3 linked regions of the Homo sapiens genome follow. The protein of the gene in region 1 purifies or fractionates together with the protein of each later gene. This does not show direct contact. Each region holds a gene or a part of one and is shown on either strand. Other genes may lie near its edges. The genes, in order: SRMS, P4HA2 and CFAP54.

Region 1 (4,229 bases):
CCCAATGTAGTATTTACAATTCTCCACATTTCTCAACACCCCCCACCACCCCCAGCAGGGCACCTCTCTGGTGCAGAGCCTGCCCTGAGCCTGGCGATGTCCAGTCTCCCAGGGCCCCTGCTGGCTCCAGGCTATCAGCCCGGACACAGCTTGGCTGCTGGGGTGCCCTGAGAGCCAGGCCACGGGTGTCACTGCCACCCCACAATGCACACACCAGTCCCCAGACGTGAGGTTTCTGAGAAGCCCATCTGTGACTCCAGGGCAGGCAGGTGCGAGGGGCTTGTCATTGGCTGGACACTGGTCACGCCTATTGGAGGGATGCATTCAGCCACACGCATGAAGTGGGGGCATGGATGCGTGTGAGATGTGGGAAAGGGGCGTGAGGCTCCCTGAAGGCCACCCAGGTGCGGAAGGGGCTGCTGGGGGAGGCCGGCAGGAGGAGTGAGAGACTGCAGATGGCCTCACCCCACCCCCGTGCCTCAGGACCCAGAGGGGAGGTGGGAGGAGTGAGAGACTGCAGATGGCCCCCACCCCACCCCACTCAGGACCCGGAGGGGATGTGGGAGGAGAGAGAGACTGCAGATGGCCACCACCCCATCCTCCTGCCTCAGGACCCTGTACCGTGCTGCTGGGTTTTGCTGGGATTTGCTCCCCCAGTCCTGCCCCGATCTGGGGACCTACCTGAGCGGGCAGAGTTTGCTTCAGCATGCGGGGGCTTGGCGCTGTCCAGGGAGAGGGTGGGAGGTCCCCAGCCAGGGACTCACCCGCCGCCCCTTCTCCGTGTGCTCATCCCCCTGAACTGGGGCCAGGCGTCCGCAGCCTCCACTTCCCCGCAGTGGCCTTTGGGTATGGCCTGGGCATTGACTGACTCAGAAGCCGGTCATCGGGCAGCATGGGGCATCTGGGTGCCTGGCCTGCGGCCGAGCTCCCTGCAATCAGCATCTCGTTTTACTGCATGAAAGCCGGGGTGCTGAGAGCCCCCTCACTCGCCTGTCCTCAGAATTTACTGCAGAGGCCGGAGGCTCGGCACCTGGTGCAGGGTTAATGATGTTAAAATATCTGGCCAACACTTAAATAAGCAGGCAATTTTTCACCTGAGTGCAGCTCAGGCTTGGCAACCACTGCAGGTGCTGAACAGCAGCGCTTCTCCGTGGAACCCCCACTTCTCCGTGGGCACGGGCGGCTGTTGGACTGTGGTGCCCTTGGGCATGGGCCAGGCCTGACTGGGCAGAGCCATTCCGCCTGCCTGGGCCTTGCAGAGGGCGGGAGAGAGGCTGGCCCTGCCCACCCCGCCCTCCTCGGGCCCCTCCTGGAGCCCGCCCCCGCCCCAGCCCAAGCTGCCCTCTGCCGTCGGGTTGGGGAGGGGACGGTGCACTCCAGACGCCAAGGAGGTCGAGGACAGGAGGTGCTGTCGGTGTGCCTGAGGCAGGGGGTCCGCCCTGCGCCCCACCCAGCCCCAACGCCAGCCCGGACGCCGGTGGGAACCGTGTGCCTCCTGGATCCAGGGGACCTCTGAGTGACCGCAGGGCCGGGGTCCCCTGTCACCCCACGGCCAGGGCAGGGAGCGCTGGACACCGGGTCCCACCGGCCCTGCCAGTTCCTCTTCCGGGCTCGCGGGCTCCCATGGCCCTCGGGCCCAGCGTGGTGACCCCGGGGGATGGAGCCGTTCCTCAGGAGGCGGCTGGCCTTCCTGTCCTTCTTCTGGGACAAGATCTGGCCGGCGGGCGGCGAGCCGGACCATGGCACCCCCGGGTCCCTGGACCCCAACACTGACCCAGTGCCCACGCTCCCCGCCGAGCCTTGCAGCCCCTTCCCTCAGCTCTTCCTTGCGCTCTATGACTTCACGGCGCGGTGTGGCGGGGAGCTGAGTGTCCGCCGCGGGGACAGGCTCTGTGCCCTCGAAGAGGGGGGCGGCTACATCTTCGCACGCAGGCTTTCGGGCCAGCCCAGCGCCGGGCTCGTGCCCATCACCCACGTGGCCAAGGCTTCTCCTGAGACGCTCTCAGACCAACCGTGAGTACCTCGGCCTCGGAGTCAGAGCCTGCCTCGCCCCCAGCTGGGGAGTCCAGAACAACGGCAGGATTTTGAGTTGGAAATCGCATGTCCGTGGCTATCTGTTCATTCATTCGTTCATCCACGCATTCATTCAGGGACAGCTGATGGGCCCCGGGCCGGCAGGTGTGGTAGGAAAACAGCAGTGTCCGCTGTGGGCTGCCGAGAGGGAGAGGAGGCTCCGGCAGGCGTGGTCAGGTCCTGTGGGGGGGAGCATCAGCTGCACCAGCTGGACACCCAGCAGGCGGTTCCTCCAGGACCCTGCCTGGCTGGCCAGGCCCTCCCGCCCTCACACAGGGAGTCCAGTGTTCATGGATCGGTCACTGCTTGGAGGGCAGGGGCTGGGGGCTGGGAGGCACCAGATGACAGGAGCTCCAGGAGCTCTGGGTGACGGCAGGTGAGCAGGGGCTGGGGGCTGGGGGCTGAGACAGGGGCCCATGCTCCAGGAACTCTGGGTGAGGGCAGGTGAGCAGGGGCTGGGGGCTGAGACGGGCCCACGCTCCAGGAGCTCTGGGTGAAGGCAGGTGAGCAGGGGCTGGGACTGGGGGCTGAGACAGGGGCCCACGCTCCAGGAGCTCTGGGTGAGGGCAGGTGAGCAGGGGTTGCAGAGGCGCCTAGTCCAGATGCCCAGTGCGGCTGCTCTGAGCGGCTGCCTTGGTCTGGCATCCAGCTGGGCAAGGCCTGAGCCCTGGAGACCTTCGGGGTCAGCCTTGCTCAGGGCCACTTCCAGCCTCCTGGGGGCCCTTTGGCACTCACACATCGTCCTGGGGGTTGCATGGGCGGGTGAAGCCGGAGTCACAGGAAGGGGCCTTCTGAGGGGCCCCAGGCCCTCACCCCACACCTGCCCCGCTTGTCCTGAGCAGTGGTTGGGGGGCAAGCAGCCTTTGTGATGGGAAGGGGCTCACAGTCACCCCAGGTGTGGAGGACAGACCCCTTCAGCAGTTCCTGGAGGGCAGGGCTCGTGGTGGAGCAGGGCGGTCCATAGGCAAAGCTAATGACTATTTGCCTAGGCTGGAGATTAAAAGACTAACCACACTCAGGTGTCATTAGCTCCAGACACCTGGCCCCACGCCCCAGGGAGAGACCTCAGACACATCCTCTGCATCTCAGGATCCCACAGGGGCTCACCTCTGACCCCCAAGCCCTGATGTGGGCTTCAGAGGAGGCTGGCGATGTTTTGGGGAAACACCTGTGTCTCATCCCCACACCCCACGGTGCTGGGAGGGACCTGAGTCCCTTTACACGTGAGAGGGTTGCGTCTCCCTGCCAGCAGACCCCAGAAGGCAGGGGCCCTGGCTGCAGGAGGAGCTCCATGGACAGAGCGTCCATGGAGTCAGTGCCTCAGGCCGCTGCCTCTCTGTCCCTGGTCCCACACCTCTTCCTGTCTCCATCTTCATTCCCTTCAACTTAAGCCCAGCCCCACGGCCCTGGTCATGTCAGTTTCTATTCCTGCTGCCCCCATTGCCCCCTAGGTCACCGGGGCAGGGGTGCCAGACTGTGTCCTCCGTCTTGCCCAGTCCCAGTCTGCCAGGATGGCATGGCCGTGCCCCAGCCCCGAATCTTGTGTTGACTCTGAGGCCCACCTCGGGTCCTCTCCTAGTCCCGCTTCCCAGGTGGTTTCAGCCCCACCCTGACACCGGCTCACTCTGCTTCTTCCTCCTGGTGCTTACGGGGTGTGCCCTGGGGCAGGGGAGTGGCAGGCATCCCTCTCCGGGTCCCAGGAAGCTCCAGGAAGTGGGAGGCTCCAGGGTGGGAAGCTGAGTCAGGTGTGGAGTCCCCGCCTTGGACTTCAGCAGCAGAGTTATGCAGACGGGGTGGGGCTGGGAGCATTTCTGTCTTCCTTCCAAGGATGCCTCCGGCTCCCAGGAATGAGTAGATGTGACCTGGTGGGCGGCCCACCTGGACAGGGGAGACCCAGCCGGCCCCTCTCCCGACACCCGGTGTGGGCTCCTCGTGTGTGGGCATCTGAGGAGTGGGCACCTGGGAGCTCCCTGCCACCCTGCCACCGTGTTCAGAGAGGTCTCACCTGCACCTGGCTTTTCCGAGGGGGTGTCTGTGCGAACAGACGCCAGTGGGCTTAGGGCCGTCCTGTACTGGGCACAACTCTCCAGCATGGGATGCAGGATGCTTTGAACGTTCGCACAGCAACCCCCCTGCAGCCGCCCACTGGCTGCCCC
Region 2 (3,650 bases), on another chromosome or scaffold:
GGGAGACTGGTGCGTGGGTGAGTTTTTTGGAAATGTTCCATAGGATGCTATGAAGCTGGGTCCTGTGGAGCTCCTGATTAGGACTGTAAATGAGGTGAATGACTTAGAGGAGAATGTATATCTTTATAATATTGGGTCTTCTCATCCAAGGGCATGACAGGTCTCTCCATATCTTTTTAAGTTTTCTTCATATAAGCCTTGAACATTTCTTAAGTTTATTCCTTGGTAGTTTCTTTGTTACTGTTAATTTACTTTATTTCTTCATTATTATTTTTAACTGGTTACATTATTTTATTAGTTTACTATTATATGCCAAACTATTGATTTTACAAATACATTTCATAGTAAGAGCTAATGTTTACTGAATTCTTAACTGTGGCAGGAACTTCTAAGTGCTTAACATATATATTAAGTGTTATGTCACAGTTATGAACAGCTGCTCATAATGATGTCACTGTCTCTGTTTTACCTATGAAAAAGCAAACTCATACAGATTGCAGCTAGTGGTTGAATTTACTTATTTCTTTTTTGGTTTTTAGCTGATTTCTCTTTGGTTGCCTGGATAGCATTAACACCTGGAAATAAGGAAAATTTTATTTTCTCCTGATACTTGTAGTTCCTTTGTTTTTATAACCTTATTGAATTGCCCAGAACTTCTAGAGCATAATTACGTAGAATAGGCATCCTTGTCTCATTCCTGAATTTCCTGGAAATTCCTATGGTATTTTACTGCTAAGAATGCAGTTGGCTGTTGGTTTTGTATATATGCCATGTTTTAAAATTATTCTTCTGTTTCTAGTTCATAAAAGATTTGTTCCCCATTTGACATCTTTCAAAGAGACCTATTTGCTGCCATATCCCATCACTGATGATTGGGAGGGAGGATTTAGCTCGATTCTCTATTGCTCTGCTCCTAATAGAATTGTAGGGGCCGAGGTGACCAGGAGGCCCGACACTCATGGAGAGACCTGAAATAGGTTCCTATCCTGGCCCCTGGACCTCATCTTGGAACAGCTTTGGCTTGAGGTACTAGGACATCTAGGGCTTTGAGTCAGTGGTTGGCATCATCGATGTGGCTGAGGAAGGGGGCTAGCCAGATATATGGAGAATGGGGACTAGGACTCCCCTTTCTACTCAGCTCCAGAGTCCTCCAGGAAAGAAAACTACTTTGTTGGTTGTGCCAGGATTTCCTGAGAGATTTCTTACCCGTTCTTCAGTTCCAGACACTGAGAACATTTCTCTGTGCATGTGTGCATATGTGTACACATGTGTGTGGCTGGCCAGAGGGTAGTGTTAGGAAAAGATATATTTGAATAGAAGCCATGCAAAGAGCCAAACAAGGTTGGCAAACATGTTTGGCTCTTAACATGGCTTCTATTCAAAGATAAGCTGACCCCTCCTTTCCGGAGACTGTGAGGGACAGATGCTATTCTGGCTTTGAAGTAGAGCCAATGAGCTTAACTTGGCCTGTGGGGAATGCCTGGCAGCTGTCTGTGGGGTCTCTGGCCTGCTTTCAAAATAGCCCTGTGCTTCCCCTGGGGCAGAGCACAGCTGCTCAGAGCCTCTTTGTGGGTGTCAGGCCAATGCTGAGGCACAGATGTTTGGATGGGGTCTGGCTGTGGCTGCAGTTTTCAGGGAGGGACTGACATGAGCTGAAGCTCAGGAAGGGCCATGAGTAGGAGCTTGGGAGCCGTCTGTCCTGCTTGTGCTGGCCATCTTACCAGATCATGCCATAGCAGCACAGTGTCCAAGTTGGTCCATCTCACCCCCTTACTAGCCTTCTGGTCCATCTACTCCTCTCCATCCCTTCTGCCACCACCTGGCCCGGGCCACCATCATCTCTTGCCCTGACCTCTGTCGTGGCCTCACTAGCCTCCCAGTCCCCACTCTGGCCCCTCATTAGTCAACTCTCCATGAGGTATTCACAGTGATCCATTTTACATTCACATTTTGAGTGTCCCTCCCCTGCATAAAGCCTTCCCCATTTCTCGTTGGCCACAAGGTTGCATCTAGTTCCTAGCCCCTGCTTGTCTCTTCAGCCTGTTCTCTCTTACTACTTCCCATAACCTTTAATCCACACCTACTGCAACACCCATTTTCATTCCCAGGCCTCTGGATTGCTGCTCTTTCCCTGTTCCTGTAATGTTCCTCTACTTGGATAACTCATGTTAACCCTTCAGGCCTCAGCTAGGTGGTCTCCTCCCCTAGGAAGCTATTCTTGACACTATACCCTGAGCTTCCACAGGATGGTAAGTTCACCCATGCTGTGCTGCAGTTACCTGACTGGTTTTCTGCTTTCCCCACTTGACTGAGTTGTAAGAGTGCAGGGGCCATGTCTCAGTTACCTAGCATAGTGCCAGGCACAAAGTAGGCACTCATCAATATTTATTGAAATCAAGGGGAAGTGTGTTGGGGTGGGAGTACCTGGGCCTATGGCCCCACCCATGTGAGGTCATGAGGACAGTCCACAGCTGAAGCACATGGACCTTTGCCATGTTGGCTGGCTCTGGGCGGCGAGTCCCCCTTGGGGTTTCACTAAGCCTAACTGTGGAGGCTGGGGGAGATGAAGTAGATGCAGGGAGTGCATGTGTAGTGTGTACCTGTATGAGTGGGTGGCTTCCAGGCAGTGGTTCACTTATTTTAACTTACAGAATCTTTTCCTGGTTTTATCATCTGACTTGTAAGGATCCCAAGGGAGCGAAAACTGTGCCATCTGTCTTTGCTTCTTGAGGCTGTGGGAACCCAGTGTGAGGTGGTGCAGCAGGAGAGTGTTTGGATGGGTTTCTTGGCAGAGGAGCCCACTGAGGTTCGGAAGGATGGTGGAACTTGACTCAATTGAGAGAAGTACATAAGGCGGAGGCTCAGGCATGGTGGCACAGTCTGAAAATGGTGGGAGTAGCTAAGCTCAGGCAGGCTGTGCTCAGGCAGGGGTGGTATGTGGGCCTGGCAAGGAAAGGGGCTAGTCAGGCAGATGCATGGGTAGACAAGGCAGGCATAATTCTGCAGGCAAAGCGGACCTGGGGAGGAGAAGGGATGAGCAGTGACCGAGCAGGGCAATAGCCAGGAACTGATTGCGGATTGGGAATGTGGAGGCCTCAGACTCTTGCCCTCAACTGGCCTGCAGGATCTTGGGGCCTTGGCTAGAGCCATTGGCTGCAAAGCTTCCTCCACTAGCATGGCAGTAAATCTGGTCCCAGTGCTCTCTGGGAAAATATTCAAGGCAAAACAAACAAACAAACAAATCAAGTCTTCCCTCTCCTCCTTCCTTCTAGCTTGCACGAGCCACCGTTCGTGATCCCAAGACAGGAGTCCTCACTGTCGCCAGCTACCGGGTTTCCAAAAGGTAAGCAAAGAGCAGGGGTTCGTAGCTGCTCAAGCCCCAACTTCAGGACTTCTCAGTGCCTACCCTAGGGATGGGTGGCTTGCCTTTTCCTGCCTGCTGGCACCTCCTCACCCCCTTGCAGCAGGCATCCTGTACTGCCTGTTCATGCTGGCCCTGACTCTGGGGACAGAGTTCAGGACCTCATGGAAGCCTGCCCTTCCGTCTTCTTTTCTCTGCCCTTTTCTTTTTGCCCAGCTCCTGGCTAGAGGAAGATGATGACCCTGTTGTGGCCCGAGTAAATCGTCGGATGCAGCATATCACAGGGTTA
Region 3 (2,889 bases), on another chromosome or scaffold:
CTTAACTTCTCTGTACTTCAGTTTTCTCGTCTGTAAATTTAGGATACATAAAGCACCTAGAACAATGTCCAACACATACTGGATGCTCAATAACAGGTAGCTCTTACCATTATTACATTCTTATATTATTACATACATCTTCGGGGGAAGTTCGTTTCTGTCTAGAAGGATCAGAGGTTATTTATTGTTTTGTTTTGGTTTGGTTTGGTTTTTTTATGGTAATGATAGGAGTTCATTTCTGGTGATAGCAGAGTGGCTTTTATTGAACTACCATTTGCCAATAACAATTTTGAACTCTGGATCAAAAAACAGTGCAAACAATCATAAAATCAGAATTAAAATGATGTTTGAAGTCCCTGGGGAATGACTAAAAATAGGCAGAAACCAAAGGAATGGTAATCCTTGAAATATGGAAACAAACTAGGTGAGGTCCACATTTAAACAGCCTATTCTCTGAGGACACACCTCATCTTGCAAAATACGTAAGGGACAGAGTGCAATCAGGAAGAGGCTGAATGACTGAACTGAGGATTCAGAAGTCAGGGTGTGGGTCTGCCAGAGTAGTTAGAAATTAAGGAGGGAATGTTTCAACAAGGAGGGAGACAGTGTGGGGAGCCCTAAAATCTGTGCACAAATTCTCCTAAAACTGTTGGCTGACTACCAACAACACATGGACATGATGAGACTCCAGAGAATCCAATGGAAAGTTATAGCTGAAAGGCTCAAAGAACAAAGCCTCAGAGATTTCAACAGCTGCATGGTACTGGAGAGACAAATTTTGTAATTCAAGTCCAGTCAAGGAAAAGGGACTTAATAAATTATTTGTGCTTTTCATTAAAACCCTAGGAGGGAAATACCTTAAGAATAAGGATTTTAGAACCAAGGACTACAAATGAGGCCTAACAGCAAAGCAAAAATAGGCCCACCCATCAAACCTCCATAAGATAAAAGTGGTTGTCAGTAATTTAACTGTATGCTAGAACAAAACTCAACGACGTTGCCCACAATGTACAGTAAATAATTAAAAATTACTTTATATACAAAGAAGCAGGAAAATATCATCCACAATCTAGGAAAAAAACAGTCAACACATTTCCAGAAGTTCCAGGTATTAGAATTAGCAGATGGAGACTTTAAAATAACTATAATATACATGTAAAATAATCTATTGAAAAAGATTGCTATAATGGATAAAGAGATGGGGGATATCAGGATACATATGGAAATGGAAAAAGAACCAAATGGAAATCCTTAAACTGGAAAAATAGATCTGAAATTTAAAAATTCATTGAATGGACTTAGCAAATTAGGTGCTACAGAATTTTTTTTAAAAAATAGTACACTTCTGGACAGATCAGTAGAAATTATCTAAGCACTGAGAAAAAAATGATTTTCAAAAATTTCAGAGCTATGATGGCCTATTCATGTTTCGACATGTGTGAAACTGAAGTCTAAGATAGGAAGGGAAGTTAGGAAAGAGCCCCAGATAGGAAGAAATTGAAATCCTAGATAGGAAGGAAAGAGTCCTTTGAAAAAAGGATGGCAAAATTTTTTCAGATTTGATTTAAAATATTAACCACCTTTGGATTTAGGAAGTTCAATGAACTCCAAGCATGATAAATAAAAAGAAAACCACACCCAAGCAAATCATAGTCACAGTTCTGAAAATCAAAAATAGGAAAAACATATTAAAATCAACCAGAAGAAAAAACACAAAGTCCTAAGGAAGAGGGCAATAAGAGTAAAGGCTGACTTCTCATCAGAAACATTGGAGACCAAGTGATAATGGGTTGCCTTCTTAAAAGTGCTGAAAGAAAAAAAAAGTCAACCTATTAATCTAGATGACTTACACTAGACTTACATTTAACCATATTATTAACTATATTAAGTGTAAATGGACCAAAACTTTCATTTGAAAACAGAGATTGTTCTATTTTAAATAAAAGACACCAACAGATTGAAAATAGAAGGATGGAGAAGTGGAGACCATGTAAACACTGAACATAAGAAAGCTGGTGTCGCTATATTGTCATTAAGGTATATTTCAAAAATGGATACTGCCAGAGGTGAAATAAAACATTTTATAATGATGAAAGCATCATTTCATTAAGATGACATAGTTCTAAATGTGTTTCCATTTAATGATGAGACATTTTATTTTTTAACATCTAGTACAGTAATTCCCTTTAAGGACAGAGGTGCCTTGATTAGAAAGGTATTTTGATAAGTCTGTTGGAGTAGGTGGTCTCTATGAGCCATTGATGTGGGGTAGCTTTGATGCTTCAGAGGAGCAGGTAGAATTACTTGAGACAGGAGATAGGGTCACAAATCTTCCCAGTTTTTCCAGAACTGAGATTGACTTTCAGTGCAAAATCTGGGACTATCCCCAAACTAAGACAGCTCCAGGCAAACTGGAATGGCTGCCTATCCTACAAAGAGAGGAATTTATTTACTTTGAAAATTGGAGAAATAAAAGAGAAAGAGAAGAAAAGAATAGATAGCCATCAGATGACAGAAGGTTGTACAGTGGATTAAGTGACCCATTACAGTGATCCCTCAAACATTAAGTAAAATTACTAAACTCACAAAAATGATGGTTGTAAAATGTGTTTGAATGTTTGAGAAGCTAGTGATGAGGTAGAATGGTTGAAAAGTTGCATGCATCATAAACATGGTATTTCTGGAACAAGGATCATGAGAACATAAGTTTTGGGGAATTTGTAGGAATCATGGGAATAGTTTTAGACTTTCATAGGTTATGAAATGGGAGGTTTGAGTCAAGCTTGGGGATAATAAGGGAAAAAGAGCTGAGATTATATCTGAATCTTACAACTGTATTAGTTAAGAATCATTTGGTTTTGGATAATAGAAAATCTACCTTTAACTGGG

Evidence for each region.
Region 2: the proteins of SRMS (region 1) and P4HA2 purify together in Homo sapiens (affinity purification with mass spectrometry; one large-scale study listed by BioGRID and IntAct). This does not show direct contact.
Region 3: the proteins of SRMS (region 1) and CFAP54 purify together in Homo sapiens (co-immunoprecipitation; one large-scale study listed by IntAct). This does not show direct contact.

Annotation. Positions count from the first base shown.
Region 1 is NC_000020.11:63,544,892-63,549,120, reverse strand, and holds the start of SRMS (tyrosine-protein kinase Srms), read left to right. Parts: upstream 1-1,371; 5' UTR 1,372-1,657; coding exon 1,658-2,013; intron 2,014-4,229. UniProt on the Homo sapiens protein: Non-receptor tyrosine-protein kinase which phosphorylates DOK1 on tyrosine residues. Also phosphorylates KHDRBS1/SAM68 and VIM on tyrosine residues. Phosphorylation of KHDRBS1 is EGF-dependent. Phosphorylates OTUB1, promoting deubiquitination of RPTOR.
Region 2 is NC_000005.10:132,203,775-132,207,424, reverse strand, and holds part of P4HA2 (prolyl 4-hydroxylase subunit alpha-2 isoform 2 precursor), read left to right. Parts: intron 1-3,272; coding exon 3,273-3,343; intron 3,344-3,577; coding exon 3,578-3,650. UniProt on the Homo sapiens protein: Catalyzes the post-translational formation of 4-hydroxyproline in -Xaa-Pro-Gly- sequences in collagens and other proteins.
Region 3 is NC_000012.12:96,870,483-96,873,371, forward strand, and holds part of CFAP54 (cilia- and flagella-associated protein 54), read left to right. Parts: intron 1-2,889. UniProt on the Homo sapiens protein: Required for assembly and function of cilia and flagella.